Linked DNA regions of Homo sapiens: regions 1, 2, 3, 4 and 6 are each linked to region 5. Evidence: fine-mapped expression QTL. A gene starts in region 5. Each other region holds a variant in brackets. All regions are shown on one strand. Distances are between the middles of the regions.

Region 1 (5,109 bases), 220 kb before region 5:
CCTGTGTCACAGAGCTGGGGCCATCAGATGCCCCATGTCCACTCTGAGGACAGAGTAGCCCATGGTTAGGATGACCCACCAGCCAGGCCTGGCCAGGGCACCCACAGGAGACAGGAAGGCTGTGAGGGCCCGGGGGCACGGAGCAGCTCTGAAAGGAAGGGGTGCTGGGTCCCGGGGCTCCTGGGCAGAGTGGTTGAAGAAGGTGAGACCCCAGACCAGCCAGATGGGCCCACTTCTCAGGGGACCCTGGTCAGACAAGGGAGCACCTCCTGCTCATGGAACACAGCAAGGGGCAAGGTAGGCACAGCCAGGCTCGGAGAACTCGTATTTGGGGGAGATGTAAATCAACCCAATAGACAAGGGAGCGATGTGGTGTAGGAGATGGGGTTTGTGCTGGGGAGAAATAAGGCAGAGAGTGGGGAGTAGAGAGCACCTGTCTGGGGTCTCAGGAGGAGCGATGTCCCAAGACTGGAGGCGGCCAGGGGCTGAGGAGCCCTGACTGGGCCAGGCCTGTGGCTGGAGCTGGAGGCTCGGGTTCAGCCTCAGTTTCCCCTCTGTGAAGCTAGGTTCATAATAATGGAAATTGACTTTCTGGGTGGCTGGAGAGACATTCAGATGGAAAATGGATATTCTATTTTGTCTCTGTCCTTGGTTGTTGTCATCTCAGGCTGTTCCAGCCCCAGTTAGCCTCGGGTCAGCCCCCTGCCCATGTTGGTCTCCCCATGAGCTCAGGCACCTCATCCCCAGCACAGCTGGCCTGGAGAAACCAAGATTCCCTGAGGCTTAAAATAGCTGGAAAGCCAGCCCAGCTGCAGGTGCCTCCCTGTAGGATAAAATGTAGGAGAAGATCTTCAGGAGCTAGGACTAGGCAAAATTTTCTTAGACTTGACACCAAAAACATAGTCTACAAAAGGAAAAATTGCTAAGCTAAGTTTCATCAAAATTTAAAAATTTGTTCTGCAAAACACCTTGTTAAAAAGATGACAAGTTACAGACTAGGAGAAAATATTTTCAAACAACATATATGAACAAAGCACTGTTATCTTGAGTATATAAGGAACTTGCAAACTCCACACAAAAAATCAAACAATCCAATTAGAAGATGGGCAAAAGACACGAGCAGACATTTCACCAGAGATGATACACAATGGACAAATAAGCCCATGAAAAGATCTTCAACTTCACTAGCCATTTGGGAAATGCAAATTAAAACCACAATGAAATATAATTTACACACATCAGAGTGGCTAAAATAAAAAATAGTGACAAGACAAAACTCTGCTGAAGATATAAGTGTGAATCACTCATATATTGCTGGTGGGCATATAAAATACCACAGCCACTGCAAAAGTGTGGCAGTCTCTTTTTTCTCTTTAGAGACAGGGTCTCCCTATATTGCCCAGGCTGGACTCAAATTCCTGGGCTAAAGTGATCCTCTCGCCTCAGCCTCCAGAGTAGCTGGGACTAAAGGCACATGCTACTGTTGATGTTTGGCAGTTTCTTATACGACTGAACATGGAACTACCGTATGACCTAGCAATTACATTCTGACTCATCTATCCCAGAGAAATGACAACCTGTGCTCATACAAACAACCGTACGTGAATGTTCATTACAGCTTTAATAGCAATAGCCAAAAATCTAGAAATAACTCAGCCATCCATCAGCAGGTGAACAGTTAAACTGTGCTACATCCATCTTATGGAATAGCACTCAGCCATCCAAAGGAATCAACTCTTGATACACTCAACCAGCTCAACCCTCCCCAGAACGCACCTGGGTGGGAAGGTGCACAGCAGATTGGGCCACTAGATTTACCCAGTGTGGAGGAAACAGGTACCTCCTCCTAGATTTTGTTCTTGGCAGAGATAAACCAGTGCTTCTCAGTCATTTTTGCTTTTTACTAGCCATGGGAGGTATTTTCCAGTAAAGGCTTCTATGACCAAATGCATTTGAAGGAATGTTCCATATGCTCTCCCACACGCCTTCAATTTCCTGAGAGTGACAAGAATACCAGAATAGCCAAGGTTCTAAGATATCCTTCAGGATACCTGTTTAACTTAAACTTCCCCAAACTATTTGATTATGAGACTCTTTTCAAGCATAAACATTTTCCTTCCAGGAACATTTGTATTCTTATAAGAAAATATTAGAAAGCATTCCAGGTGACTTACCTAATGGGAGAACCTCAGGCGCCAAGCCAGATGAGATAAAAGTTTCAAA[T/C]AGTGCTGATAAGGTTTTCTTGGTTCAGCTGCCTCCCTCCAACTCAGCTGCTGTCACACTTCTAGGCAGTTTTGACTGGACTGTAAATTCCTTCTGGCTGGGGCCATGTCTCAGCACCTTGTGCAGGAGTGATACAAACTAATGCTTCATAATAAATACTTACTCACTGACTTTCTCTTTATTCATCCCAGGTGAGCATGTTTTCCATCCCCTTCAATCTCCACACTCACGGGCAAAAGTGAGTTGTGGGTCTTGGAACTCTCAAGAAGAGGAGGAGATCTTCAATTTGCATATGCAGAATCCAAACAAGTCATCTTGAGTCCCCACAAGTAGGTGGGCTTATTTCTCACATAACAAAATCGCCCCTCCTTTGCAGCCTCTACACCACTGCAGATCAAGCCCAGCTAAACCTTGCTGTGCTATCCTGAAGGTATTGCTCCCAGATCCCGGCTGTCAGCTCCTGTCCAGCATCACAGGGCAAGTCCAGAGACATGATCATGTAATTGACCAGGGATGACAAGTGGGTCCTCTCAGTGGACAGGTGTCTGCAGTAGGTAAGCCCTGTCAGGAGAGGAAAGAAAAGCATCATCATCTACCACCTGATACCCTTTGCCCTGTCTTATGGAGTCCCCAAAGTGCTGTCCCACACTCCCATCTTTATTTTTTTATTTTTCTGAGACGGTCTCGCTGTCACCCAGGCTGGAGTGCAGTGGCGTGATCATGGCTCACTTCAGCCTAAGCCTCCCGTGCTCGAGCAATCCTCCCATCTCAGCCTCCTGAGTAGCTGGGACTACAGGCATGTGCCATCATGCTCAGCTACTTTTTAACCCCTCCTTTTCTTCACAAGGAAGGCAAGGCTTGATGTCACTTGCTGGCTGAATGGCTTAATAGCTCTACAACCCTAGGGAAGTCTTATCACCTTGCTCAGCCACAGTCAGGGTGATGCCATCCTCCTCTGCTGGAAGCCAAAACATTTAATTGATAGGCTGGAGGCAGAGAAGGGACAGGAAAGAAGGTGGCCAATGACTCTGTGGCCTTGCTGTGCCTTTGTCTGCCTCCAATCCATACACAGAGAAAGACACTGTGAGATGTGGACAACTTTCTTTCAAATATCAGCTGAATACAGGTATTCATCCAAAAGAAAGGAAATCAGTACATCAAACAGTTATCTGCATGCCCATGTTTACTGCAGCACCATTAACGATAGTACAAAATCAACCTATGTGTGGAGGAATAGTACAGAATCAACCTAAGTGTCCATCAATGAATTGACAGTTAAAGGAAATGTGGTATATGTATGCAATGGAATATTACTCAGCCATGAAAAAGGATGAAATCCTGTCACGTGCAGTAACATGAATGGAACTGAAAATCATTATGTTAAGTAAAAAAAGTGAGGCACAGAAAGACAAATATCACATGTTCTCAGTCATACATGGAAGCTAAAAAAGTATTTCTCATGAATGCGGAGAGTAGACTGGTGGTTACCAGTGGCTGGGAAGGGAAGAGTAGGAGGGGAATGAAGAGAAGTTGGTTAATGGTACAAAAATCCAGTTAGATGGAATTAAGTTCTTGTATATTATAGTAGGAAAAATATAATTAACAGTAATTTATTGTATATCTCAAAATAGCTAGAAGAACTGTAAAGTTCCCAACATGAAGAAAACATAAATGTTTGAGGTGATGGATGTTCCAATCACCTCAAACGTGATAGATCAATACGCAGTGGATCTATCAAAATACTACATGCACCCCCAAAATATGTACAACTACAGTATATCTATTACAAATTTTTTTAAAAAGAGGGCCGGCCGGGCACAGTGGCTCACGCCTGTAATCCCAGTGCTTTAAGAGGCTGAGGTGGGTGGATTGCTTGAACCCAGGAGTTCTGGACTAGCCTGGGCAACACAGTGAAACCCAGACTCTACAAAAAATAAGCAAACTTAGCTGGGTGTGGTGGCGTGTGCCTGCAGTCTCAGCTACTTGGGAGGCTAAGGTGGGAGGATTGCTTAAGCCTAGGAGGTCAAGGCTGCAGTGAGCCAAGATCTTGTCTCTAAAAAATAAAATCGGCTGGGCGTGGTGGCTCACGCCTGTAATCCCAGCACTTTGGGAGGCCGAGGCCGGTGGATTGCCTGAGGTCAGCCATCCTGGCCAACATGGTGAAACCCCGTCTCTACCAAAAACACAAAAATTAGCCGGGCATGGTGGCACACCCCTGTAATCCCAGCTACTTGGGAGGCTGAGGCAGGAGAATTGCTTGAGCCTGGGAGGCAGAGGTTGCAGTGAGCCGAGATCGCGCCACTGCACTCCAGCCTGATTGACAGAATGAAACTCTGTCTCAAAATAAATAAATAAATAAATAAAACAAAATCAGATAAAAATAAAACAAAATTGCAGCTGGATTAAAAAGGCCCCAGTAAGTCAGGAACCAGGGAGAGAGATACTGAGGGGGCAGCTTGCTTTCAATGATGGTCCTGCCTCAAAAGCACACCTACCAATGTGCCACCCCTTATCTGTCACACCCTGTCACCTGGAGGGTGTTAGGCAAAGTGCCTCAGCAAACGCCAGCCCGTGCTGTTTGCTCTGGCTGTGCCCTTTCCTTCTGGCGTTCCCCAGCCATTTCATCCTCAATTCCCAGTGAGAACCCTGGACATTTTGCAGCCTGGGGACTAAATTCTAACAGGAGGGTCAATCATAGCAATGATGATGATGATGATGACCACGATGATCTAATAGCTAATACTTACACAGTACACACTATGTGCCAGGGAGCTGTTAGCAGAGTTTGCATAACTCAGTCTCGCCACAACCCAAGAAAGCAGGCGCTACTGTTATTTCCATCTTATGGATGGGGTAAGTTGAGGCCCAGACTGGTTATGTCACTTG
Region 2 (5,000 bases), 110 kb before region 5:
TCGAACTCCTGGGCTCAGGTGATCCTCCTGTCTCAGCCTCCCAAAGTGCTGGGATTACTGGCGTGAGCCACTGTGCTTGGCCAACCTATCTATTTTTAAAGACAAATATAACTTTTTTTTCCAGAGAGAAGAACATACAAGTGACAGAGTGCTAAGAAGGAGTGAACTCCCACTCAGACCAGGCCACTGATAGACTTTCAGAGTCACCAGGGAGCTTAGAAATGGCATAGACTAGGCTGGGCGCGGTGGCTCACGCCTGTAATCCCAGCAGTTTGGGAGGCCGAGGCGGGCAGATCATGAGGTCAGGAGATCAAGACCGTCCTGGCTAACACAGTGAAACCCCGTCTCCACTAAAAATACAAAAAATTAGCCGGGCGTGGTGGTGGGTGCCTGTAGTCCCAGCTACTCGGGAGGCTGAGGCAGGAGAATGGCGTGAACCCAGGAGGCAGAGCTTGCAGTGAGCCAAGATTGTGCCACTGCACTCCAGCCTGGGCAACAGAACGAGACTCTGTCTCAAAAACAAAAACAAAAACAAACAAACAAAAAGAAATGGTATAGATTAGCTTCTGAGTTTATGGAGCAGGAAATGGAGGCCCACAGATGTGATGGCACTGGTGAGGCTGGAATAAACTGTGGTGTGGTGGGTGAAAGCCCACGATGTGGAGTTGGAAGATGTGGTTCCAGACCCCACTCCACTTGTGCGACTTTGGCAAGTTACTTAATCTTGGGAACCTCCGTTTATCTATAAAACTGGAATAATAATACATACATCTTACCGAGTGCCCAAGAGCCTATGGCATGTAAGTGTTTGTTACTGCTGTAAAAAAAAGCCAAAAAAATTAAAAACCTTCATTCAGTGTAGCCAAAGTGTACACAGAGTTACCCTCTTGTGGAAAAAACAAGTAACTGGTCATTAACACTCTGGAATGTGCCAAGAATCCTCCTAAAATGTGCTCTTTAAATCCTCCTAAAATATGTTAATTCCACATCACCGGGACGCTTTGTTCATTTTCCACTAGGAAGCGGCCAACAGGCCTCAAAACAAGAGGACACGTTAAAGGCCCTAGGGCGCAAGGACAAGAGAAGCACCTCGCCCGCGTAGCGGTTGCGCAGATTCAGGGATGCCATGAAGTTGGAGTAGTCTTTCTTCACACAGGCCGGGCGCTCGCTCAGCTGAGTTGCCTACAGACAGATAACCATTATTGTAGACTATGGCAGCACTATCCTTTCCTCGTGTTTACCATGGCTAAGCCTAAACCCAATGAAGCAGTCACACTCGGGTCTGGGGGTTACTATTAATAAAAATCTTCACTGCTGGCAAGTTAATAAAGCAAAATATTTTAGAATACCCAGCAGTTTGATATGTTCCATAAGAAATTAAAAAAAAAAGTCTCTGGAAGGCAGTTTCTGCTACTGGTAAATAGGCCTTTGCAAGAAAAAGAATCACTAGATTGTGAGAGCAATGTCACCTGTGATGGAAACGCCATGAAAGCATTCACAGCCGTCTCCTTGAGAGTTGCGTGTGCAGCTTATAAATGTCACTTACAGACCGTAAAGGGGCTGAAGGGGAGAGCCAAGGCCAGCAGGCTCTTAAACATCTGCTGGCTGCTCTTCAGTCTAATGGGAAGAGACAGAAAAGGGTACACCTTGAATACAAAGGCAACCCACAGAATGGGAGAAAAATATTTGAAAACTACCGCCCACCCACTCCACCCCTCCAGCCACTCTCTCTGCTTCAGCCTCAGCCTCCCAGCCCCAGGGCCTCAGTGACCTGGCTTCCTAACCCAGGCTGGCTGCTGTGCCACACCTTTCAGTTCCTGTTCATCCACGGTCACTGCAGAGTACAGCATGCATTGAAAAGGACCTCCTTTCGCATTTCCCTTTAGCATCAGTACTAATGGGGAAAGTGAGCTTCTCAACTGTTTTGAGTTTAGAGGGATTTTTTTTTGAGGGGACATGGTGTGGAGAAAGAGGACCAGGAGAAGAAAATACAGATGTTGGGGAACATCAAAATATAAACAAGAACAAAAATACATGATTTCTCTCATGAAATTATTAAACTGGTTTATTTAAAAAAATAAATTACGTGAAACTGCTTTACATTTTCTGGAAACAATGCGGTCTTTGGCACCAAGCAGGACTGAGTTAGAGCTTGGCTCTGATACTAATCAGCTGTGAGACCTTGGGAAGTCAATGTCTCTGAGCCTCAATGTGCTCATCTGTAAAGTGGGCATAACCCTCTCACAATGTTGTTACACGTTCAACGTAATGACACACACAATGTCCTGGCATGGCAAACAGCACCTGGTGGGCAGTGCAGGCCGGCTCCCTCCCTTCCACCATCACTCCTCACTGCCCAATGCGATCTCGGCTCACTGCAGCCTCCACCTCCCTGGTTCAAGTGATTCTCCTGCCTCAGCCTCCCGAGTAGCTGGGATTACAGGTGCATGTCACCACGCCTGGCTAATTTTTGTATTTTTACTAGAGATGGGGTTTCAT[CA/C]AAAAAAAAAAAAAAAAAAAGAATTTTTTTTTTTTTTTTTTTGAGATGGAGTCTTGCTCTGTTGCCCAGGCTGGAGTGCAGTGGCGGGATCTCGGCTCACTGCAAGCTCCGCCTCCCGGGTTCACACCATTCTCCTGCCTCAGCCTCCCAAGTAGCTGGGACTACAGGCGCCTGCCACCATGCCCGGCTAATTTTTTGTATTTTTAGTAGAGACGGGGTTTCACCGTGTTGGCCAGGATGGTCTCGATCCACTGACCTCGTGATCCGCCCGCCTTGGCCTCCCAAAGTGCTGGGATTACAGGCATGAGCCACCGTGCCTGGCCCCAGAATTAATTTTTAAAAATTAAAAAAAATAACTTAGAGAAAACCTAACTTACATCAAATTTTCTGGGGAAAAAGAACAAAATATTTTAGGCAAAACAGATCTTTCACAAGTCAGCTGGCTAGAGTCTAGAAAAGGCTTACAAATGAGAACACATATTCTATTTTATGTAATAAAGCTTTGCTCCTACCACCCCCAAAAAGGAAAAGGCTTATGACTATCATAAACACTTACAGTCTATGAGTTCCGCCTCTGGCCTCTGTGGCCACCCAGTGGCAGAGACGTCCAGGTCAGGGCACTGATACCTGGTGCCCCGTCAGAGTAGGAGGCCCAGGGCGGGTGGCCCTGCAGGTGCAGGCTGGACCCAGCTCAACCATGTCTGCTAGACTGGTGTCTTTAGAGATAGTGCAGTGACCTCGAGGAGAGTGCCCTGATAGCAAAATGAGGCGAGAAGACACCAGCATTCTCTGGCACATCCTCAGGCCCCACAAAAGCCAGAGGGCACTCAGGCCCCTCTCTCCCGCCGGTATCCCAAGGGAGGCCTGTCACCCTTCCTCCTGGGTACACAGCCTCTGCACCTCCACATATCCCATCCCATGCTCCATTTGGAGAGAGTTGGGAAGCACACATGGCCAGGCTCTAGATTCACATTAACCAACAAAATCTCTGACCAGCCCCAGTCACATGGCCAGGTGGAACTGCCTGCTTTAATCCTTTTTAACTCTTAGCTCTAATTTAACTCAGAAAGTATTGCTGTGTGAACCCTCTGTCCTCTAGATTAATCTCTAGCAGAACAAGAAGCTGAAGGCATTCATGTGCGGTTCAGCACCTGCAGAAAACAGAACTGTTCAGGAGTCCAGTATACGCTCCAGATAAGTGCAACTGTGGCATCGCGCTGCCCGTGTCAGGCGGAGCTCTGTTTCCATCCTCTCAGATGGGGACATTCAAATCAAAATCTGATCACTGACATATCAAGCACTGATCCCCATAAATCCATAAATTTAAAAAAAAAAAAGCACAATAAGGAAACACTCATTTCAATGGCCACCTCTTCTTTGGGCCAAGGTGCGGCTTGCACCACTACCATTGTCAACAGACATCCACAGCACCCTGCATGTACTCATGTGCGTCATGAAAAGCGACAGCCGAGCTCTAAGCCTTCCCCTGCACTGTGGCTCCTATGGTCTAAGGGGTCACTGCTCTTCAGAAGGCTCGCACATACCCCAAGAGTTGTGTTCTGCTTGTTGTAGCCAGCAAAGTGAAGGATGCTCTCAGTGGCCATGGCCAGCCCCGTGTGCTGGGACAGTCCCGATACCCAGTTCTGATGTTTGTTCAGATATTCCTGAAATAGGAAAAACACATGGGGTTTCAGTTATTTATCTGATTTTTTTAGAGGCAGGGTCTCGCTCTGTCACCCAGGCTGGAGTGTGGTGGCACGATCATGGCTCATTGCAGCCTCGACCTCTTAGACTCAAGCCATCCTCCCGCCTCAGCTTCCCAAGTAGCTGGGACTATAGGGGCACGCCACTATGCCTGGCTAATTTTGCAATTTTTTTTGTAGAGATGGTGTCTCACTATATTGCTCAGGTTGGCTTGAATTCCTGGGCTCAAGTGATCCTCCCGCCTCAGCATCCCAAAATGTCAGGATTACAGGCATGAGCCACTGTGCCTGGCCTTGCTATTTCATTTAAAGGGGAAAATAAAACTTTATAAATTAAGGTGTGGGCAAATGGACCAAACACTGGGTTTCTGTCCTGGGTCTGCCCCTCCCTAACTAGCTGTGGGACTGTCAGTAAGTCAAAGCCCCTCTATGACCAGCTACTGCTCATTTGACTGAGGACAAGGCCAATTCCCCGAGCGGCTGTCATGCAGTCACTGCGGTGTTGCACCGTCAATGGGAGAGGGCCATTTATTCTTTCAGCACATCCTTGCTGAGCATCTGCTGTGGTAGCCACCAGGCAAATAAGCTACAAAGCCTTGGCCTTGCGGTCAACAGGCAGGCTGTGTGGTGTGGAGCCTCGGTTCTCTACTGCAGCATACCAGCAGCCTGGTGTGGGTGAACTGGACAGCAGGAACGAAGAACAACACCTGTGTCCACCTGGCCACCCAGTGGGAGAAGGGTGCTGGGCAATGGGATACCTGGCAGAGCCCAGGGGTGTGAGGGAGGCCTCCTGCTCT
Region 3 (5,000 bases), 91 kb after region 5:
GTATTTTTCAGTAGAGATGAGGTTTTGCCGTGTTGGCCATGCTGGTCTCGAACTCCTGACCTCAGGTGATCCATCTGCCTTGGCCTCCCAAAGTGTTGGGATTACAGATGTGAGCCACTGCGCCTAGGCTTTTTCTTTTCTTTTCTTTTCTTTTTTCTTTTTTTCATTTTTTTTTTTTTTTTTTTTTGAGACAGGGTCTTGCTCTGTCACCCAGGCTGGAGTGCAGTAGTGTGATCACAGCTTACTGCACCCCTGCAACCTCTGCCTCCTGCGCTTAAACGATCTTCGCACCTCATTCTCCCAAGTAGCTGGGACTGCAGGTGCATGCCACCACGCCTGGCTCATTTTTGTATTTTAGAGACAGGGTTTCACTGTGTTGCCCAGGCTGGTCTTGAACTCCTGGGCTCAAGTGATCCACCCACTTCAGCTTCCCAAAGTGCTGGGATTACAGGTGTGAGCCACTGCGCCCGGCCACTTTGTGCTTTTCACACTATGTTATTATCTGACAAAGATTCATTGTGTATCCCACTCAAAAGACAGAAGTTTTTTAAGGATACGAACTGACCTGCCCATTTTCCATGGAGTAGATGTTCAGTAAATTTATTTAATTGATTAGGTAGGATCATGTAGAAAGTATCCTGTTGAAGACCGCCAGACTCACAAGTTAATTGGAAGGCGTGAGGTGTGAGTGTTCTTGGCAGCTTTCAATCCTTAGCCTCATCTTTAATCTTCCCGTAGTCTTCTTTGGCTGCTTAGTATCCATCACAGTCATTTATTAGACCCCGTTTTCAGCCTGTTCCTCATTGGTTTTGAGAGGACCCTTGTTGGTGACAAGGTTGGAAATCCTCTGATATATACAGTGTTGTGCTTCTCAGTGCTAATTCCAGCTCTTCCCTTCGTGCATCCAAAGGGTATGATCATTAGAGGGGGCGTGGGGTTGGGGGATGGGTTCTATTCAGGAATCTCTACTCAAGTAACAATCATTTAATTACTGCAAGAACCTTTCAAAGTTGGAAGGAAACTGAGACTTGGAGAACTTAAGCAGTTTGCTACAGTCATGTAGTTTCTAAAAGTGGCAGAACCAGGACATTTGTTTGGTGTCCTGCATGCTCCAAAGTTCATGGCACGGACCATTGGACTGTGCCATAAAAACCTTATGCCTGTTTTTATTTTGAGATGTAGTCTTGCTGCGTTGCGCCGGCTGGTCTCAAACTCCTGGGCTCAAGCAGTCCTCCCACCTCAGTCTGCCAAGGACCTGGAACTAGAGGCATGTACCACGATGCCTGGTTCTATATGTGTTTAAGCAGACAAAAGCTTATTTCTTATTGTCTTAGATCTTAGGTGGGTCTTATATTCAAGTAGCGTTTTTATGGACCTAAGTACACAATACAGAACCTTAGATTAGTGCTCTGCTGAACAGAGTAACACCCTGTCTACAATGACTACCACCTGAAGGTCTTTTTTTAAAATACACCTTTTTGTGTAATTTGACTTTAACCATTCTCAGAATCATGTGTTCATTTCTATCCTGTTGGGGTTAGTGGCCAAAATAGAAGGTTGGTGTGGGGTGGGGAGCTGCTTTGTGCTCAAAAGCTGTTTCTGTGTGTGTGTGTGTTTTGATTTTTGTTTTTTTGAGACAGGGTCTCACTCGGTTGCCCAGTCTGGGGTGCCGTGGCACTATCACGGCTCACTGCAGCCTCAGCCTCATGGGCTCAAGCCATCCTCTCACTTCAGCCTCCTGAGTAGTTGGGACTGCAGTCATGTACCACCACACCCGGCTAATTTTTCTATTTTTTAGAAGAGATGAGGTTTCACCATGTTGCCCAGGCTGGTCTCGAACTCCTGACCTCAAGTAATCCCAGGAGTTCAAGGTTACAATGAGCTGTAATCGGGCCACTGCATTCCAGCCTGGGCGACAGACCCCGTCTATAAAAAATTAAAAAATAATGTGCATGGTGGTGCACGCCTGTAGTCACAGCTATTCAAGAGGTGGAGGTGGAAGGATCACTTGAGCCCAGG[C/T]GTTAGAGGTTACATTGAGCAGGGATCTCACCACTACACTCCAGCATGGCTAACAGAGTGAGACCCTGTGTCTAAATAATAATGTATGGGCCCTTTGGATAAGGTAGTGTTTGTGATTTAATGTAAACTGTCTTTTTCTTGTTGCAGAGAAATGCTAACTTTGTCTTCTTCATCCATACAGGTTGGTGACATCGTGAAAGTCACAAGGATGAATATAAATGGCCAGTGGGAAGGCGAAGTGAACGGGCGCAAAGGGCTTTTCCCCTTTACGCACGTCAAAATCTTTGACCCTCAAAACCCAGATGAAAACGAGTGATTGCTGTTGCCCTGTTTCCTGCTGCTTTGTTGTTCTGCCTGTCCTAGTCTCCTTTGAAGTGGGAAAGCATTTTCTCTCATAGGCAAGTCACACTGCATTGCCGAAGTCCAGCTTTCTGCAGACTGGCAGTCGCACACACATTTGGAATGCACACAGCGGCTGCCTCCTGATGTTTGTATCATAGTCGTATTGTCAAAGAGTAGCCGATTTTAGAGTTCTTTTGGATCATAAACTGGAAATACTGATGGAAGCACACAAGTGGAGAGAAGTTGACATGGAAAGGGTCTTCCTTCTCATTGCTGCCCGTTTGTACATGGGACTGATTCTGTTGTGTTCACCAGAGAAAGCTTGAGGCCATGGCGAGATACTGCATGTTTGCTGTTCCACAAAGCAGTGGCTTAGCTGCCATCTTGCTTTTCTTTGGACAACAGGAAGTGAACCTTAAGGAAGAGAGAATTCTGTTCTAAAACTCCAAAATCTGGCTTTTTTTTTTCTTTTGTTTTGGTTTGGTTTTGGAAAACTAATTAATTAGACTTGTGTGGGGGTTTTTTTTTGTTTTGTTTTGTTTGTTTTGTTTTGTTTTTTTGAGACGGTGTCTCGCTGCATCACCCAGGCTGGAGTGCAGTGGCGCAATCTCGCCTTCCTGCAGTCTCCGCCTCCTGAGTTCAAGCGATTCTCCTGCCTCAGCCTCCCAAGTAGCTGGGACTGCAGGCGCGCACACCACGCCCAGCTAATTTTTGTATTTTTAGTAGAGACGGGGTTTCATCATGTTGACCAGGCTGGTCTCAAACTCCTGACTTCAGGTGATCCACCCGCCTTCAGCCTCCCAACGTGCTGGGATTACAGCCGTGAGCCGCCGCGCCTGGCCTAGACTTGTGTGTTCTAAACAGGTTAAGTAGCAGGTTGGGTTTTTATGATAGTGCAAGGAATGACTCATGCCTCTGAGCTTCTAAACTGAAGCTGCTGTAACTAAAGGAATCTGAAAAGAACAACCCTGAAGCAGAGGCCTTTATTGTCTTGGTTGCCAGTAGTACCTTGTTTTGCCATGTAGCAGACAACACACAAAATAATGCAGTTGTGGTGTGCCATGCTATGTGCACAGCCCCTTGGATTACTTTGTTTTAAAAAGCATCAGAGTTGGGGGTACTTTAGGGAAACCTTTGCTTACCTTGTTTTGCCAGTGATAAGAGCAGTGGGTTGGAGGGCACTTGGCCAGTTTTCTGTTCAGCTTTTCAGTGAATGTACCCCTTTAAGGTTCAGACTTAAACTTCCTTAAAAAGTGGCGTTGTTCATAGAATCGTTGGACTCATTAATGAATCGTTCAACTCCACTCACTGAAGCCCAGACCTCCGTGCCCAGGCCCAATCTCGTCAGGCTGCCAGAGAAAGTTGGTGCTGCTCATACTGGTCTCACAGTCTAAGTAAGTGTCTGTGATGCTCCCAAGCAAAGGAAATGCAAGCTCTGGAAATTCGTTAATGTATTTGATGTCTTAGTGTTTTAGTGACTAGGGAGACCATTAACTAGTTTATCATTAACCACTTATCAGTGTATTGATGTTAAAGCATTTCCCTGTTAGCTAAAAGAGGCCTGTTCATACAAGCCAACTGGTATATACGTGTGGTTCATCCATCATCTGCTGCACATAGCAGACTAGAATTCTGGGAACCCTGTGCAATTCAGTCTGCTCTCCCTTGTGGACCCTGGTAAAGAAAAGCCTCAGCTCATAGTGAACACAGCAGACCTAGAAATGTAGCAGCAGCCTACTGAGTAGCTTTCATTTACTGATCATCTGCTGTGACTGTGGCCCTGTCTGGAGGTTCCTAGGTTTTGAGATTTAGAGCAATGCATTCTGGAGACAGAACCAGCAGAACAGCCATTTTTCAATTTTTCTTTAAATCAGTATTCCATCAGGCAGATAACTGCTGTATTCATGAATCTTGAGAGTGTTCCTGAGACAGAATTAATGGTCATTTGGGAAAACTATCGCCATGGCTTCCCATCTGTGGTTTTCCTCTAAAAGCCTTGGAGATTAGCCCTTCCTTGCCAGTGAGAACGGTGACCGCCTCCTGCTCTGCACGGTCTGCGGCAGTTGCCGCTTCTGGTTAGGTGTGTCAGGTTGGCTTATTTTGGGTTCAGGCCTGGCGTAGCACCCACAAGTGGCAGACATATCACAAGAGTCCCCAGACTCTGCCTAGAAACAGTGTTTGCCCTTTGGCCAGTGACGTGGTTCATCCCGGCCCATGTTGAGCCATGAGTGGAGTTTCCAACAGAGGGAGGAATGTGTGCCTTGTTCAAGGAGGGCACGACCCTTAGGCCTTTTTCAACCAGATTTAGCTGAAGGGCTTGACACCTTTGAATTACAGCAGTTGACTCAGAGTGCAAGAAGTCTGGCCATTTTGGAAAGCAAGGTTTCCTTTCAGCCCTGTCTACTGACCAATACCCCGACTCACCTTGTGTGGCGCACTTCAGAATCAGATATACCTAGAGTATACCTGTGGTTTGGTTTTATAATTAATCAGCTCGTTACTTCAGCCCATGAAAATGGCATCCAGGGCTGCCAGGAGATTCAGAGCTCAAAACAAGGCGAGCTTGAGTTCTGCACTCCAGATATGTGCCAAAACTAGTAAAACTTAACGGACTTACAACCTTGTCAGTTTTTTTAATG
Region 4 (5,109 bases), 85 kb after region 5:
CGAGGAATCATTTCCACTTGCCTCCTTGGACCTTTCATCAGGACTGACCAGGATCCTCCTCCACCCTTCTGTCTTTGACATTGTGTCAGTTGTCCTTCACAGCATCTCAGCTTTATTTCTTTAGTACCAAAAGTGCTTTTTTTCCTTGACTATAATACCATGCAAATGTAGGAATCTTTAGAAAGTCCTTTAGAATATTCTCGTATTTAAAAATATATACATATGTGTGTTTGTGTATGTGTATATATATATATATTTTATGTGTGTGTGTGTGTGTGTGTGTGTGTGTGTGTGTGTGTGTATATATATATTTTTTTTTTTTTTTTTTTTTTTTGAGATAGAGTCTTGCTCTGTCACCCAGGCTGGAGTGCAGTGGCATGATATCAGCTCACTGCAACCTCTGCCTCCCGGGTTCAAGCAGTTCTCTGCCTCAGCCTCCCGAGTAGCTGGGATTACAGGTGCCCGCCACCAGGCCGGGCTAGTTTTTGTATTTCTAGTAGAGATGGGGTTTCACCACCTTGGCTAGGCTGCTCTTGAACTCCTGACAACGTGAGCCACTGCACCCGGCCCAGAAAAAAATATTTTTAAAAGGTTTTTGTTCCTCTTTCCTAATGTGTAAATTAAGTCAGAATGCCATGGAATTGGGGCCCTGGTGTGGTTCAGGCAGGGCCTGTCCCATCCTGGTCATTAGGCTGACCTCTGTTTTCTGTGATAGCTGTTCTCTGGTGATAGCTGTTGAGTAAGAAGAACCATCAGCTAGGGGTTCACAGAGAGAAGTTTATTCTCATGACTGCTCCCACACTAAGAGCTTGAGGTTTATATAGTTTGCCAACTATCTACCTTCTGTCTATGAATTTACCTATTCTACCTACCTGATATAAGTAAAATGATACAATATTTGTCCTTTGGGTCTGAATTATTTCATTGGGTACAATGTTTTCAGAGTTCATCCAGATTGTAGCATATATCAAAACTTCATTTCTTGTCCCAGCATGGGGTGACTCACACCTGTAATCCCAGTGCTTTGAAAGGCCAAGGTGGGAAGATCACTTGAGGCAAGGAGTTTGAGACCAGCCTGGGCAACATAGTGAGACTCCATCTGTACAGGAAATTATGATAAAGACTTCATTCCTTTAGGGCTGAATAATATTCCATTGTTATGTATATATCACGTTTTGTTAATCCATTTATCTCTTGATGGATACTTGAGTTGTTTTCGTTATTTTGGCTATGGTGAATAATGCTGCAGTGGACATTGACACACAAATGTTTGAGTCCTTGCTTTCAGTTATTTTGGTTATATATCTCAGAGTGGATTTCTGGGTCAAATGGGTAATTCTGTGTTTAGCTTTTTTTTTTTGAAACGGAGTTTTGCTCTGTTGCCCAGGCTGGAGTGCAGTGGCACCATCTCGGCTCACTGCAACCTCCATCTCCTGGGTTCAAGCGATTTCTCCTGCCTCAGCCTCCTGAGTAGCTGGGATTATAGGCACGTGCCACCACACCTGGCTAATTTTTGTATTTTTTAGTAGAGACAGGGTTTTGCCATGTTAGCCAGGCTTTGAACTCCTGACCTCAACTGATCGCTCACCTCAGCCTCCCAAAGTGCTGGGATTATAGGCATGAGCCTCCTATGTTTAGCTTTTTGAGGAACTGTCAAACTATTTTCCATAGCAGCTGTACCATATTCCATTCCAACCAGCAGTATATAAGGGCTCCCTTCTTCACCGCCAAAAAAAAATTCTTCCACATCCTCATCAACACTTGTTATTTTCCATATTTTTTATTATAGCCATCCTAGTAGGTGTGAAGTGGTATGTCATTGTGGTTTTGATTTGCATGTTCCTAGTGACTGATGTTGAGCATCTTTTCATATTGGCTTTTGGCAAATCTTTGGATAAATATTTTCAAGTTCTTTGCCCATTTTTTAATTGGGTTATTTGAGCGTTTTTGTTTTTTATTTTGTTTTATATTTTTTGAGACAGAGTCTCACTCTGTCGCCCTGGCTGGAGTACAATGGCACTCACGATCTCGACTCACTGCAACTTCTGCCTTCCAGATTCAAGCAATTCTCCTGCCTCAGCCTCCCAAATAGCCAGGATTACAGGCACTCACCACCATACCCCGCTAATTTTTTGTATTTTTAGTAGAGATGGGGTTTTACCATGTTGGCCAGGCTCTTCTGGACTCCTAAAGTGAGGTGATCCACCTGCCTTGGCCTCCCAAAGTGCCAGGATTACAGGCGTGCGCCACCATGCCTGACCTTAGTTATTGTATTTAGGCTGTTGATCCATTTTAAATGACTTTTTGTGTATAGTGTGAGGTAAGGTTTCAGAGTCTTTCTTTTGCATGTGGAAATTGGTGCAGTTGTCCCAGCAAGGTTATTCTTTCCCTGTTGAATAGACTTGGCACCCTAGTCAAAAATCAGTTGGCCAAGCTGGGTGTGGTGGTGCACACCTGTAATCCCAGGTACCCTGGAGACTGAGGTGAGAAGATTGCTTGAGCCTAGGAGTTGAAGATCAGCCTGGGCTACATAGTGAGACTCCCACGTGTTAAAAAAAAATCACTTGATCATAAATGTGTGGGTTTATTTTTGACCTCTGAGTTCTATTCCATTGTTCTATATGTCTCTCCATATGCCAGCACCACACTGTTGATTACTATAGCTTTTTGTAGTAATTTTGAAGTCAAGGAAGTGTAAGTCCTCTAACTTTGATGCTTTTCAAGGTTGTTTTGGCTATTCAGGTTCCTCGCAATTCTATATGAATTTGAGGATTGGTTTTCCCATTGCTG[C/CA]AAAAAAAAAGGCTGTTAGAATTTTGATAGGGATTGTGTTGTATTTGTAGATCACTTTGGGTAGTATTAGCTTTTTTTTTTTTTTTTTTTTTAATTTCTTTTATGAGGCAGGGTCTCACTATGTTGCCCAGACTGGTCTCAAACTCCTGGGCTCAAGTGATCCTCCTGTCTCAGCCTCCCAAAGTGCTGGCATTACAGGTGTGAGCCACTGCACCTAGCCAATATTAATATCTTAATCATAAGTCTTTCCATCCATTAACACAAATGTTTTTGCATTTATTTAGGTCTTTAATAATTTTTGGTATGCAAGTGTTTCACCATGGTTAAATTATTCTCGTTTTGTTTTGTTTTGTTTAGACAGAGTCTTGGCTTTGTCACCAGGCTGGAGTGCAGTGGTGCAATCTCGGCTCACTGCAACCTCCACCTCCCTGGTTCAAGCGATTCTCCTGCCTCAGCCTCCCAAGTAGCTGGGACTACAGACATGCGCCACCATGCCCAGCTAATTTTTGTATTTTTAGTAGAGATGGGGTTTCACTATGTTGGCCAGGATGGTCTCGATCTCTTGACCTCGTGATCCACCTGCCTCGGCCTCCCAAAGTGCTGGGATTACAGGCATGAGCCACCGCACAGCCTATTCTTGGATATTTTTATTTTAGATGCTATTGTAAATGGAATCACTTTTTTTTTTTTCTTCTTGGAGACAGAGCCTCACTCCCGCTCCATTGCCCAGGCTAGAGTGCAGTGGCACAATTCTTGTGCCTCAGCCTCCTGAGTAGCTGGGACTACAGGTGCCTGCCACCACGCCCAGCTAACTTTTTTTTGTATTTTAGTAGAATTGGGGTTTTACCATGTTGCCCAGCATGATCTTGGCGCCTCCCAAAGTGCTAGGATTCAGGCATGAGCTACCGTGCCCTGCCTGGAATTACTTTCTTTCTTTTTTTTTGGGATGGAGTTTCGCTCTATCACCCGGGCTGGAGTGCAGTGGTGTGATCTTGGCTCACTGCAAGCGCCACCTCCCGGGTGCACGCCATTCTCCTGACTCAGCCTCCCAAGTAGCTGGGACTACAGGCGCCTCCTACCACGCCCGGCTAATTTTTTGTATTTTTAGTAGAGACGGGGTTTCACGGTATTAGCCAGGATGGTCTCGATCTCCTGACCTCCTGATCTGCCTGCCTCGGCCTCCCAAAGTGCTGGGATTACAGGCATGAGCCACCGCACCCGGCTTGGAATTACTTTCTTAATTATTCATTACCAATATATAAGACGCAACTGATATCTATGTGTTGATCTCGTACCCTGCGACTTTGCTGAATTTGTATCTTTTCTTATATATATGATCGTGTCTTGACTTCCTCTTTTCCAAAAGCCCACATACTCTTGTACCACAGCATACTGGCCTGTGATACCTTTAGCCCCGCCCCCTACCTTTCCCAAATAAAATCTCTGTGTTAACCAGTAAACAGCCCTCTTGAATCAAGTTACTACTCTGAAGGATAGTGGTAATTTTAAGAAAGAGACCAAGTCTTCAGTATTAAAACCCTATTAGATAGCATTCAGTTGTGGGTTTGAGTGTATGAGATTACTTGACTGCTAGCCAGGGCACACAGACAGGGAGCCTAGCCCTCTTAAAGCCTCTATCTCTCTGGCTACTCTGATTCAGGTGCAGGTGCACAGAGAACACAGGGGCAGGCAGTGGACCCATGCAGCTCCGTGAGGGCCAGGGGTGTTTGTCTCCTTTGTGTCCTCTGTTGTATCTCTTCACGGCCTACACATAGATGTTCAATATTTGTTGAATGACTAGAGGAATAAAAGCCACAGAGAGCAGGATGATACCTGTCTGGTGATTATAGTACATGGGCTTTGTTTTGTTTTAGATATTTTGGGGGCTATAAGCCCCTTTGAGAATCCAGTGAAAGTTGTGCAGTCTTCAGAAAAACAGCATACATTCATGTATTTGCATACAACTTCGCAGGATGTTCTTTGATCACTGAGACCCATTCACATCACTCAAGTTAGAATTTATGATTCCAGTGTCACCAGTGTACTCCTGATCTTACTTTTATGTAACCTGAAAGCATACAATCTCAGCCTATCAGTACAGGGAGCGGAGACTGATTATGGAACCAAAAAACTGCTGTGACGACCAGTGCTTGGGCCCTCCAGTGCGTTGACTGCTCTTTGAATCAAGTGCCAGATGCCAGTCAGTAGAGTCATTTCCTGGACAACACTCTGGACAAGTAGGGCTGTAGGAAACTATTGCCAGCAGCAAGAGGTACCCTCTTGCCATTTAACTCTTGGTAGACATAAAAGGGCTGACTA
Region 5 (5,092 bases):
TGATCTGCCTGTCTCAGCCTCCCAAAGTGCTGGGATTACAGGCATGAGCCACCGTGCCCCATCATAAAATATAATCTTGACAACTGAAGCAGTTATTACTACAAAGCTAAGAATGTTGCAATTACAGAATGTTCTCGTGACTAGTGAACATGGCTGAAGAAGCAAATTGAGCTCAAGGTGCCCTTTTCTGAGTTACTGAGTGGAAAGGGTGCTACCACTGCTGGAGCTGCAGGACCAGCTTCTTAAAGATCATCCAATTCACTGCATTCTCTTCTCTCTCCTCCCAGAATCCAGCAATCAGTCATAAGATATATTTGTTGGCTCTCCTGCTAAGAAGCGAATGTGCTGACTAGCTAGCATGAGTTTGATTCAATAAAACAGCACTACACTCCATTAGTCAGACTATCTAATGATAACAGTGCTCATACATTAGGTACCCACGTGCCTTTTTGTTGCTCTTCACAATACTCCTATGAAGTACTACCTTGTATTTGACAGAAGATAGCAAAGTATCAGAGAAGGGAACTGACCTGTCTAGAGTCACACTAGTGAAAGCAAGTGATACAGGATTTAAATTCAGAGGTTCCATTTTCCAAACTCATGTCCTTTCCATTGCATTGTACTCCCTCTTTAGCTAGAAGTCAGGTTAGCACCAATCTGCCGGGACCTTCTCACCCCGAAGGTGCATGATAAAATCAAATATGAGAACCGACAAGGCCAAGGACCAGGTCACTCTGCCAAAAGTGCCTAAAACAGCCTTTCAGCTTCATCCATCAGCAGACAGCCACAAAACCACTCCCAACTGCAGCAGGCTGGTCTCCGGTCACCACTGTCTTATCTTGTCGGAAAACATCCTCTCTCCATGTGCCAAAAAGTTGAGTGGGAAAATAATTCCATCCTTTCAGAGCTAAACACTGTGCTGAGTCTCATCGCACACGGGTGGGCAAAGAAAGTTGACATTTACTGCTCACCCACTCTGTGCCTTGACCTGTGCAAGATGCTTTATGCTAGAACTCATTTAATTCTCAAGAACAACCTCATTTTACAGATAAGGATACAGAGGCTCTAAGAGTTAAATTTACCCAAGAGGACATGGTAAGTAAGTGCCAGTGCAGGGAACAAATTCAGGTCCCACTCTAAAATCTGTCTCTTTCCAGATCTCAAGGCACACCACTGAGTTGCCTTTCACCTTTCTCCCAAGATGAGGATTGCTCTGGCATGACTTCACCTTTCTCTTCTGAAGCAATTCCAAGTTCACTTCTCTGCCCACTGACAGTTCACTCTCCTTTCCCTGCCACTGTCCCTTCTGCAAACGCACAATCTTTTACCCAACCTAACGCCCCCAGCCTCGTAGAATAACACTGCGCAGTTGGTTTACAGTCACAAAGCACTTTCAAGACAGTGTTTCGTCTCCTGGTCACCACAGTCCGGTGAAGCCGGCAAAGCAGATAAAAGCATCCCCATTTTACAAGAAAGCCATCTTCCCAAGGTCGCGGAATAAAAAGCAGGTGAAATCGGAAGCAGAACCCCAGGTCTTGACCCCTGGTCCTCGGCTCATCCCACTGCTCCGCACAGCCGCCCACGATCCAGCCTCCACCTCCGCGATGTCACAAGATGCTCCCTGGGCCAGCAGCTCACATCCCCCACCCCCATCCCACAACCACCCACCTGCAGCGGCCCTGCAGGCCCCGCCGACCCTTCCCCCACGGTCCCTCTCTCTTCACCAGCCCCTCCCACTAGGGCCTCCTTCCCCCGCTAGATCCCTCCGCTCAGGCGCCCCCTCCCGCACAGGCTGCCGGCGAGCCCAGCCTCGGCCTCCCACAGACCCTCGTCCCGCCTCCACGCTTCGTCACCCCAGCCCCTCCTCCTGTCAGCCCGCGGCCCAGCCCGCCGACGTTACCTTCTCCAAGGATGCTGGTCTCTGCACCGCCAGGGAGCGGGCCAGTGACAGGACCGTGTTGAAATAGAAGCCCCGCGAGGCGCTGGAGCCGGAGCCGGAGCAGCCGCCGCCGCCTCCGCCTCCGCCTCCGCCTCCCCGGGCCGGGGCCGCCGCCATCACCTCACGAGCCGCGGCGCTGCCCGCCGGCTCCCCGCTCCTGGCCCGCGAGCGCCCGACCTCAGGGCGCAGGCGTAGGTGCATCCGGCTTTCCCGCCACGTGACCTCTCAGTTGCTGACACTAGATAGGGCGTGGCTGCGGGGCGGGCCCACCGCTGCAGGGGAGAGAGGGGATGGACAGTAGGCTGCGGTTGCGCGCGCCGGATGTGGGCCCCCCCCAGCCGACCTGCGCGATGGTCGGCTCCGAGGGCGGGGCCACCTGCGCGCGACGCGCGGAAGGAGTTCGCGCGACGACCGCGGGGTCGGCGGGCGGGGCGAGGCCCTGGACGGCGGCGGCAGTGGGGCTCCTCCTTCTGTTTCCCAGACCGAGAGCCGCGCCGGCACCATGTCAGCTTACCCTAAAAGCTACAATCCGTTCGACGACGACGGGGAGGACGAAGGCGCCCGGCCGGCCCCTTGGAGGGACGCCCGAGACCTCCCCGACGGGCCCGACGCGCCCGCGGACAGGCAGCAGTACTTGCGGCAGGAGGTCCTCCGCAGGGCTGAGGCCACGGCCGCCAGCACCAGCAGGTCCCTGGCCCTCATGTACGAGTCCGAGAAGGTTGGGGTCGCCTCTTCCGAGGTGAGCCTGGGGCAGGGCTGGTGTGGACTCGCCGGTCTCTGTGCTGTCAAACGGAGACGAGAAATGTTTTGCTCACAATCTTTTGAGAATTCTCAAGTTGCCTAGCATAGATTCTTGCACCTTAGTGACTCGATGGTGGTAACAATCTGTTAACTATGTAAAGGTATGTGCATCTGGAGTACTTGAAGAGGGCAGTTTACCCCAGAAATCTTCCTTAGCTATTAGTCTGCTTCGTTGATTTTTTTTTTCTTACGCCTAGCTCACGGGGAAACGCCAGATTATTTTCTGTCCAGGTGAGTAAAAATTCTGAACAGCAGGTCCTAGGTTTGGGAAATGGAGAGTCCGTTTCTTCGACATTATTTCCTGTGCAAAATCTGGCACAGGGTTTTGGCCATTCCTTCCGGAGTGAGCCAGAAAGAGAGGACTATGTGCCTGCGAGTGTCAGGTGATACCCTGAAGCATCAGGGCAGGTGGTCCACGAGTTCTTCCCGCATCATTGACATCTCCACCTAACCAACCAATAGAGGTATTGAAGTCCCTTCAGCCCAGACAGCTGCCTAGTTGACCAAAGCCTGGGTTTGATTGAGTCCAGGGTCTTACCTTTACTTCCCAAATCCTAGACAAATAGTGTGCGGGTTAAGAGTTTGTTGCTCCAACTCATCTTCATCAGTTCTTCCCATCCTTAGATTTCAGAGAGTAGTACCTTCAATAACAATTATTCTGGCCGAGCGCAGTGACTCACGCCTGTAATCCCAGCACTTTGGGAGGCCTAGGCGTCGGATCGCCTGAGCTCAGGAGTTCGAGACCCGCCTGGGCAACATGGTGAAACCCTGTCTCCACTAAAATTAAAAAAAAAAAAAAACTAGCCGGGTGTGGCGGTGCGCCTGTAGTCGCAGCTACTCAGGAGGCTGAGGTAGGAGAATCGCTTGTACCCGGGAGGCAGAGGTTGCAGTTAGCTGAGATCGTGCTGCTGCACTCCAGCATGGGCAACAGACCGAGATCCTGGAGGGTCTTTTTCTTTTTCTTTTTTTTTTTTTTTTGAGATGGAATCTCGCTCTGTCGCCCTTGCTTGGGTACAGTGGCATGATCTGGGCTCACTGCAACTTCCGCCTCCGGGATTCAGACGATTCTCCTGCCTCAGCCTCCCGAGTAGCTGGGACTACAGGTGCGCCGCCACACCCGGCTAATTTTTTTTGTATTTGTAGTGGAGACAGGGTTTTGCCCCGTTGGCCAGGCTGGTCTGGAACTCCTGACCTCAGGCAGTCCGCCCGCTTTGGCCTCCCAAAGGGCTGGGATTACAGGCGTGAGCCACCATACCGGTCGAGAATGATTCTTTATTGTACACCACAGTCTCTCTTCAGCCTGCTAATGAAACAGTTTTGTTTGGACAGAGAAAAAAAAAGGTTTAAAAAAATGTATAAGCCAGGCGCGGTTGTACTTCTGTAATCCCAACAATTTGTAAGGCTGAGGTAGGCAGATCATTTTAGCCCAGGAGTTTGAGACCAGCAGGGGTAACTGCGTCTCTACAAAATTTGAAAAATTAGCCAGGCATGGTGGCACACACATGTGAGTGCAGCTACTGAGGAGGCTGAGGCAGGAGGACCGCTTGAGCCCAGGATGTCAAGGTTGCAGTGAGCCATGTTCATACCACTGCACTCCAGCTTGGGCGACAGAGCAACACGCTATCATTTCCCCTTGCTGTTTTCTTGGGTTAATTCCCTTCCCCACCTCTCTCTGTTCATGTATCCCTCATTGATCCACCTCCCTGTGGTTTTTTTTTTTTTTTTTTGAGACAGATTCTCGCTCTGTCACCAGACTGGAGTGCAGTGGCACCAACTTGGCTCACTACAGCCTCCGCCTCCTGGGTTCAAGTGATTCTCCTGCCTCAGCCTCCTGAGTAGCTGGGACTAAGGCGTGCACTACCACACCCAGCTAATTTTGGTATTAATAGAGTTGGGGTTTTGCCATGTTGGCCAGGATGGTCTCGATCTCTTGACCTCGTGATCCACCACCTCGGCCTCCCAAAGTCCTGGGATTATAGGCGTGAGCCACTGCACCTAGCCCACCTCCCTGTGTTTAACTGTTGGTTTTTTATTTTTGTTTTGTTTGAGACAAAGTCTTACTCTGTCACCCAGGCTGGAGTGCGATGGTGTGATCTCGGCTCACTGCAACCTCCACCTCCCCAGTTCAAATGATTCTCCTGCCTCAACCTCCCAAGTAGCTGGGATTAGAGGCACCTGCTACAACACCTGGCTAATTTTTTTGTTTTTGTTTTTGTTTTTGTTTTTTTGGTGTTTTTTGTTTTTGAGACGGAGTCTTGCTCTGTCTCCCAGGCTAGAGTTCAGTGGCGCGATCTCAGCTCACTGCTACCTCTGCCTCCCAGGTCAAGCGATTCTCCTGCCTCAACCTCCTGA
Region 6 (5,109 bases), 170 kb before region 5:
CCTGACCTCAGGAGTTCGAGACCAGCCTGGCAAGCATAGTAAAACCCCAACTCTACTAAAAATACAAAAATTAGCTGGGTGTGGTAGAACATGCTTGTAACCCCAGCTACTTGGGAGGCTGAGGCGGGAGAATCACTTGAACCTGGGAGGCGGAGGTTGCAGTGAGCCGAGATCGCGTGACTGCAACAGAGAAATTCTGTCTCAAAAGAAAAATATAACTTCATAAAAACAAAGTAGGGAGAAGCAGAAAAGTTTGTCTAGATCTAGAACCATTAAAGGAATTGAATGTTTATTTTAAAATCTGTATCCCGGCCGGGTGCGGTGGCTCACGCCTGTAATCCCAGCACTCTGGGAGGCCGAGGTGGGCGGATCACAAGGTCAGGAGATCGAGACCATCCTGGCTAACACGGTGAAACCCCATCTCTACTAAAAATACAAAAAATTAGCCGGCCCTGGTGGCGGGTGCCTGTAGTCCCAGCTACTCCAGAGGCTGAGGCAGGAGAACGGCGTGAACCCGGGAGGCGGAGGTGGCAGTGAGCCGAGGTGGTGCCACTGCACTCCAGCCTGGGCAACAGAGCAAGACTCCGTCTCAAAAAAAAAAAAAAATCTGTATCCCATCCCCTCAAAAATCTCACAAAAAAACAAAACCAAAGAAAAGCACCAGGCCCAGATGATTTTATGGACAGCAAACATTAAAAAGAACATAAAGTTTTTATCTTCTACATAATTTTTAAAAATTAATTATTTATTTTTGACAGGAAGTCTCGCTTTGTAGCCCAGGCTGGAGTGCAGTGGCGCGATCTCGGCACACCGCAACCTCCGCCTCCCGGGTTCAAGTGATTCTCCTGCCTCAGCCACACCAGTAGCTGGGACTACAGCCGCGTGCCACCATGTCTGGTTAATTTTTGTATTTTAGTAGAGACAGGGTTTCACTATGTTGGCCAGGCTGGTCTCCAACTCCTGATCTCGTGATCCGCCCGCCCCAATCTCCCAAAGTGCTGGGATGTGTGAGCCGCCACGCCTGGCCACTACTTTTTCTTTTCTTTGTGTGTTTTTTTTTTTTTTTTTTTTTTTTTGGTGTGTGTGTGTGTGAGATGGAGTTTCCCTCTTGTTGCCCAGGCTAGAGTGCAATGGTGCGATCTCAGTTCACTGCAATCCCCGCCTCAGCAGGAGAGCAGGAATCTTCAGTGATCCACTGGCGGATCTGCAGCCATTGTGCGCGCCAGGTCTTCCCAAGTCTTTTGTGCGCGCGCCTCTCCTTCCAGTACCTATCAAGCCAGCGTCCCCTAGCCTCCCGCCATTGCCAGCAGGTGCTGAGATCGCGCCATTGCACTCCAGCCTGGGAGACAACAGCGAAACTCCGTCTCAAAATTAAAAAAAAAAGGATGAAAATTTTGGAAAAATATGGAAGAAACCAAATGGATTTCTAGCTCAACTAAATCGTAATTATTCAGTGTCTAGTTTTTGCAAGAAACCATATATTTCATGTCCACAATCGGCCACAGTCCCAGCTCTCAAGTGTAGGTCTTTCCTAAGCAAATTGAAGAACACAGGCATAAAAGTGCATTAAGTCAATAAACATTTTTCTCTGTGTCTCTCTCTCTCTTTTTTTTTTTTTTTTTTTGAGACGGAGGTTCGCACTGTCACCCAGGCTGGAGTGCAGTGGTGAGATCTCGGGTGACTGCAAGCTCCGCCTCCCGAGTTCACGCCATTCTCCTGCCTCAGCCTCCAGAGTAGCTGGGACTACAGGCGCCCGCCACCACGCCCGGCTAATTTTTTGTAGTTTTAGTAGAGACGGGGTTTCGCTATGTTGGCCAGGCTGGTCTCCAACTCCTGACCTCGTGATCCACCCGCCTCCGCCTCCCAAAGTGCCACAGCCCCGGCCTTTTTTTTTTTAAGACAGAGTCTCGGCCGGGCGCGGTGGCTCACGCCTTTAATCCCAGCACTTTGGGAGGCCGAGGCGGGCGGATCACGAGGTCAGGAGGTCGAGGCCATCCTGGCTAACACGGTGAAACCCCGTCTCTACTAAAAATACAAAAAAGCAGCCGGGTGTGGTGGCGGGCGCCTGTAGTCCGAGCTACTCCCGAGGCTGAGGCAGGAGAATGGCGTGAACCCGGTAGGCGGAGCTTGCGGTGAGCCCAGAGATCAGGCCACTGGAATCCAGCCTGGGCGACAGAGGGAGACTCCGTCTCAAAAAAAAAAAAAGAAAAAAAAAAAAGACTCTGACTCTGTTGCCCAGGTTGGAGTGCAGTGGCGCGATCTCGGCGCATCGCAATCCCTTCCCAGCCCCCGGGTTCAAGTGATTCTCCAGTCTCAGCCGCCGGAGTAGCTGGGACTACAGGCGCGTGCCACCATGTCTGACTAAATTTGTATTTTTACTAGAAAGGGGGTTTCACTAT[G/A]TTGGCCAGGCTGGTCTCCAACTCCTGATCTCGTGATCCGTCCGCCCCGACCTCCCAAAGTGCTAGGATTATAGGCATAAGCCGCCACGCCCGGCCTTTTGTTTTTCTTTTTCTTTTTTTTATTTGAAGACTGAGTTTTGCACTTGTTGCCCAGGCTGGAGTGCAATGGTGCGATCTCAGCTCACTGCAATCTCCACCTCAGCAGGAGAGCAGGAATCTTCAGTGATCCACGGGCAGATCTGCCGCCATTGTGGGCACCTGTTCCTCCCGCGACCTTTGTGCCCGCCTCTCTCCTTCCAGTACCTATTGCATGACCCCCCACGTCCGCCTCCCGCCATTGCCAGCAAGTGCCTCGCGCGGGTACCTGGCTGCGCTTATTAATCCGTTAAGCTCGCTCTGTCACGGGCGCCGTGATGTGCTCACGCGCCCGCTCCCTCAGGTTTAAAAGGCGCGTTGCCCGGCAACAGAAGAAACTGCTGGCTTAGCCGTTGGCCGAGTTGGCGGCTGGACGAGGACGCTCAGAGCCCAGCTCTCGAGAGTTCAAGCAACCGACGGTTCCCCACTGCTCCCAGGAGCGGTTACCTGGGCACTCTGTGCCCCTCCTTCCTGTTCGGGCCCAGGCCGAGGACCTGCCAGTAGGGCTCAGTTGCCTGGAGCCCGTTCAGCCCATCCCCCAGTTCACTTTGCCTGTGGGATCTCCCCGTTGCTCCTGCCCGTGGACTGAGTGGCAGGCCATCCTACAAGCACCCGGACACTTGACATCCGTGGTGTCAAGACAACTCTAAGAAGGTTTTCCGTGATCCTGCAAGCCCTGCCTTCCTTTCTGGGATCCTGCCTTCAATTTGATTGCACAGGTACCACAGCAAGCCAGTGCTGTGTGCTCCGAGTTCCAGGGCGTCCTCCAGCTCAGCCACTGCACTGAGAACATGGACTCTCTGTGGGGCCCAGGAGCTGGGAGTCACCCCTTTGGGGTCCACAACAGCCGGCTGTCCCCAGACTTGTGTCCAGGGAAGATAGTGTTGAGGGCCCTCAAGGAGAGCGGGGCAGGGATGCCTGAGCAGGACAAGGACCCTAGAGTCCAAGAGAATCCTGGTGATCAGAGAAGGGTCCCCGAGGTCACCGGGGATGCACCGTCTGCATTTCGGCCCCTGCGGGACAATGGAGGCCTCTCTCCCTTTGTGCCCGGGCCCGGGCCTCTGCAGACAGACCTCCATGCCCAGAGGTCAGAAATCAGATATGACCAGTCATCCCAGACCTCCTGGACGAGCTCGTGCACCAACCGAAATGCCATCTCCAGCTCCTACAGCTCCACGGGAGGCTTGCCGGGGCTAAAGCGGAGGAGGGGGCCAGCCTCATCCCACTGCCAGCTGACCCTCAGTTCCTCAAAGACAGTGAGTGAGGACAGGCCTCAGGCTGTCTCTTCGGGTCACACCCAGTGTGAAAAGGTGGCAGAGAAAGCACCAGGGCAGACACTCGCCCTCAGGAATGACTCCTCCAGATCCGAGGCCTCTAGGCCCAGTACACGCAAGTTTCCCCTGCTGCCACACAGGCGAGGGGAGCCTTTGATGCTGCCACCTCCCGTAGAGCTGGGGTACCGGGTCACTGCTGAAGACCTGGACTGGGAGAAGGAGGCGGCATTCCAGTGCATCAAGAGTGCACTGCAGGTTGAGGACAAGGCCATCTCAGACTGCAGACCCTCACGGCCTTCCCACACTTTGTCCTCACTTGCAACAGGGGCTTCTGGTCTGCCTGCCGTTTCTAAAGCACCCAGTATGGATGCACAGCAGGAGAGACACAAGTCCCAAGACTGCCTGGGCCTAGTGGCCCCCCTAGCATCTGCTACAGAGGTCCCCTCTACAGCTCCCATGTCTGGGGAGAAGCACAGACCACCAGGCCCCCTGTTCTCCTCCTCAGATCCCCTTCCTGCCACCTCTTCCCACTCCCAGGACTCAGCCCAGGTCACCTCGCTGATTCCTGCCCCCTTCCCAGCTGCAAGCATGGATGCGGGCATGAGAAGAACAAGGCCTGGCACTTCTGCTCCTGCAGCTGCCGCAGCAGCCCCTCCCCCCTCCACATTGAACCGCACATTGGGGTCACTATTGGAGTGGATGGAGGCCCTTCACATTTCTGGGCCTCAGCCACAGCTGCAGCAGGTGCCCAGAGGTCAGAACCAGAGATCCCAGACCTCCCGGACCAGCTCGTGCCCCAAACGAAATGCCATCTCGAGCTCCTGCAGCTCTACGGGAGACCTCCCGGGACGAAAGCGGAAGAGGCGCCAGCCTCATCCCACTGCCAGCTGACCCTCAGTTCCTCAAACACAGTGAGTGAGGACGGACCTGAGGCTGTCTCTTCGGGTCACACCCAGTGTGAAAAGACGGCAGATACAGCACCAGGGCAGACACTCGGCCCCAGGGGTGGCTCCCCCAGATCCCAGTCCTCTAGGCCCCGTAGACACAAGTTTCCCCTGCTGCCACGCAGGCGAGGGGAGCCTTTGATGCTGCCACCTCCCTTAGAGCTGGGGTACTGGGTCACTGCTGAAGACCTGGACCGGGAGAAGGAGGCGGCATTCCAGCGCATCAACAGTGCACTGCAGGTTGAGGACAAGGCCATCTCGGACTGCAGACCCTCACGGCCTTCCCACACTTTGTCCTCACTTGCTACAGGGGCTTCTGGTCTGCCTGCCATTTCTAAAGCACCCAGTATGGATGCA

Direction of the effects. Positions count from the first base shown, and alleles are read on the strand shown. Sizes are in standard deviations (SD) of each study's normalised expression. Not every link is listed here.
For the expression in prefrontal cortex of the gene that starts at base 2,338 in region 5, allele CA in region 2 goes with a higher level than allele C (moderate effect, 0.58 SD a copy in ROSMAP).

Evidence for each region. PIP is the estimated chance that this variant, and not a neighbour inherited with it, causes the effect.
Region 1: its variant is fine-mapped to the expression of SNAP29 in uterus (GTEx, PIP 0.98).
Region 2: its variant is fine-mapped to the expression of SNAP29 in prefrontal cortex (ROSMAP, PIP 0.95).
Region 3: its variant is fine-mapped to the expression of SNAP29 in whole blood (INTERVAL, PIP above 0.99).
Region 4: its variant is fine-mapped to the expression of SNAP29 in whole blood (TOPMed, PIP above 0.99).
Region 6: its variant is fine-mapped to the expression of SNAP29 in subcutaneous fat (GTEx, PIP 0.98).

Annotation. Positions count from the first base shown.
Region 1 is chr22:20,636,437-20,641,545 of GRCh38, forward strand. It overlaps the pseudogene LOC100421121. Among named protein-coding and RNA genes, the nearest start is that of MED15, 130 kb to the left of the region's middle. The variant T/C (reference allele first, on the strand shown) is at 2,224.
Region 2 is chr22:20,743,539-20,748,538 of GRCh38, forward strand. PI4KA (phosphatidylinositol 4-kinase alpha) reads right to left here. Exons shown (of 55, transcript NM_058004.4): 29 at 4,045-4,164; 30 at 1,090-1,182. Among named protein-coding and RNA genes, the nearest start is that of SERPIND1, 28 kb to the right of the region's middle. RefSeq lists a silencer at 1,765-1,814. The variant CA/C (reference allele first, on the strand shown) is at 2,500.
Region 3 is chr22:20,947,511-20,952,510 of GRCh38, forward strand. It overlaps CRKL (CRK like proto-oncogene, adaptor protein), which reads left to right. Exons shown (of 3, transcript NM_005207.4): 3 at 2,201-5,000. The coding sequence ends at 2,335. Among named protein-coding and RNA genes, the nearest start is that of LINC01637, 7.1 kb to the right of the region's middle. RefSeq lists enhancers at 4,009-4,510, 4,511-5,000. The variant C/T (reference allele first, on the strand shown) is at 2,020.
Region 4 is chr22:20,941,279-20,946,387 of GRCh38, forward strand. The region is part of intron 2 of CRKL (CRK like proto-oncogene, adaptor protein); the gene reads left to right. Among named protein-coding and RNA genes, the nearest start is that of LINC01637, 13 kb to the right of the region's middle. The variant C/CA (reference allele first, on the strand shown) is at 2,791.
Region 5 is chr22:20,856,670-20,861,761 of GRCh38, forward strand. SNAP29 (synaptosome associated protein 29) reads left to right here and starts at 2,338. Exons shown (of 5, transcript NM_004782.4): 1 at 2,338-2,678. The coding sequence starts at 2,442. PI4KA (phosphatidylinositol 4-kinase alpha) reads right to left here and starts at 2,142. Exons shown (of 55, transcript NM_058004.4): 1 at 1,901-2,142. The coding sequence starts at 2,056. RefSeq lists silencers at 1,751-1,800, 1,821-2,580 and an enhancer at 2,260-3,069.
Region 6 is chr22:20,686,706-20,691,814 of GRCh38, forward strand. It overlaps the pseudogene POM121L4P. Among named protein-coding and RNA genes, the nearest start is that of SERPIND1, 85 kb to the right of the region's middle. RefSeq lists a silencer at 237-457. The variant G/A (reference allele first, on the strand shown) is at 2,400.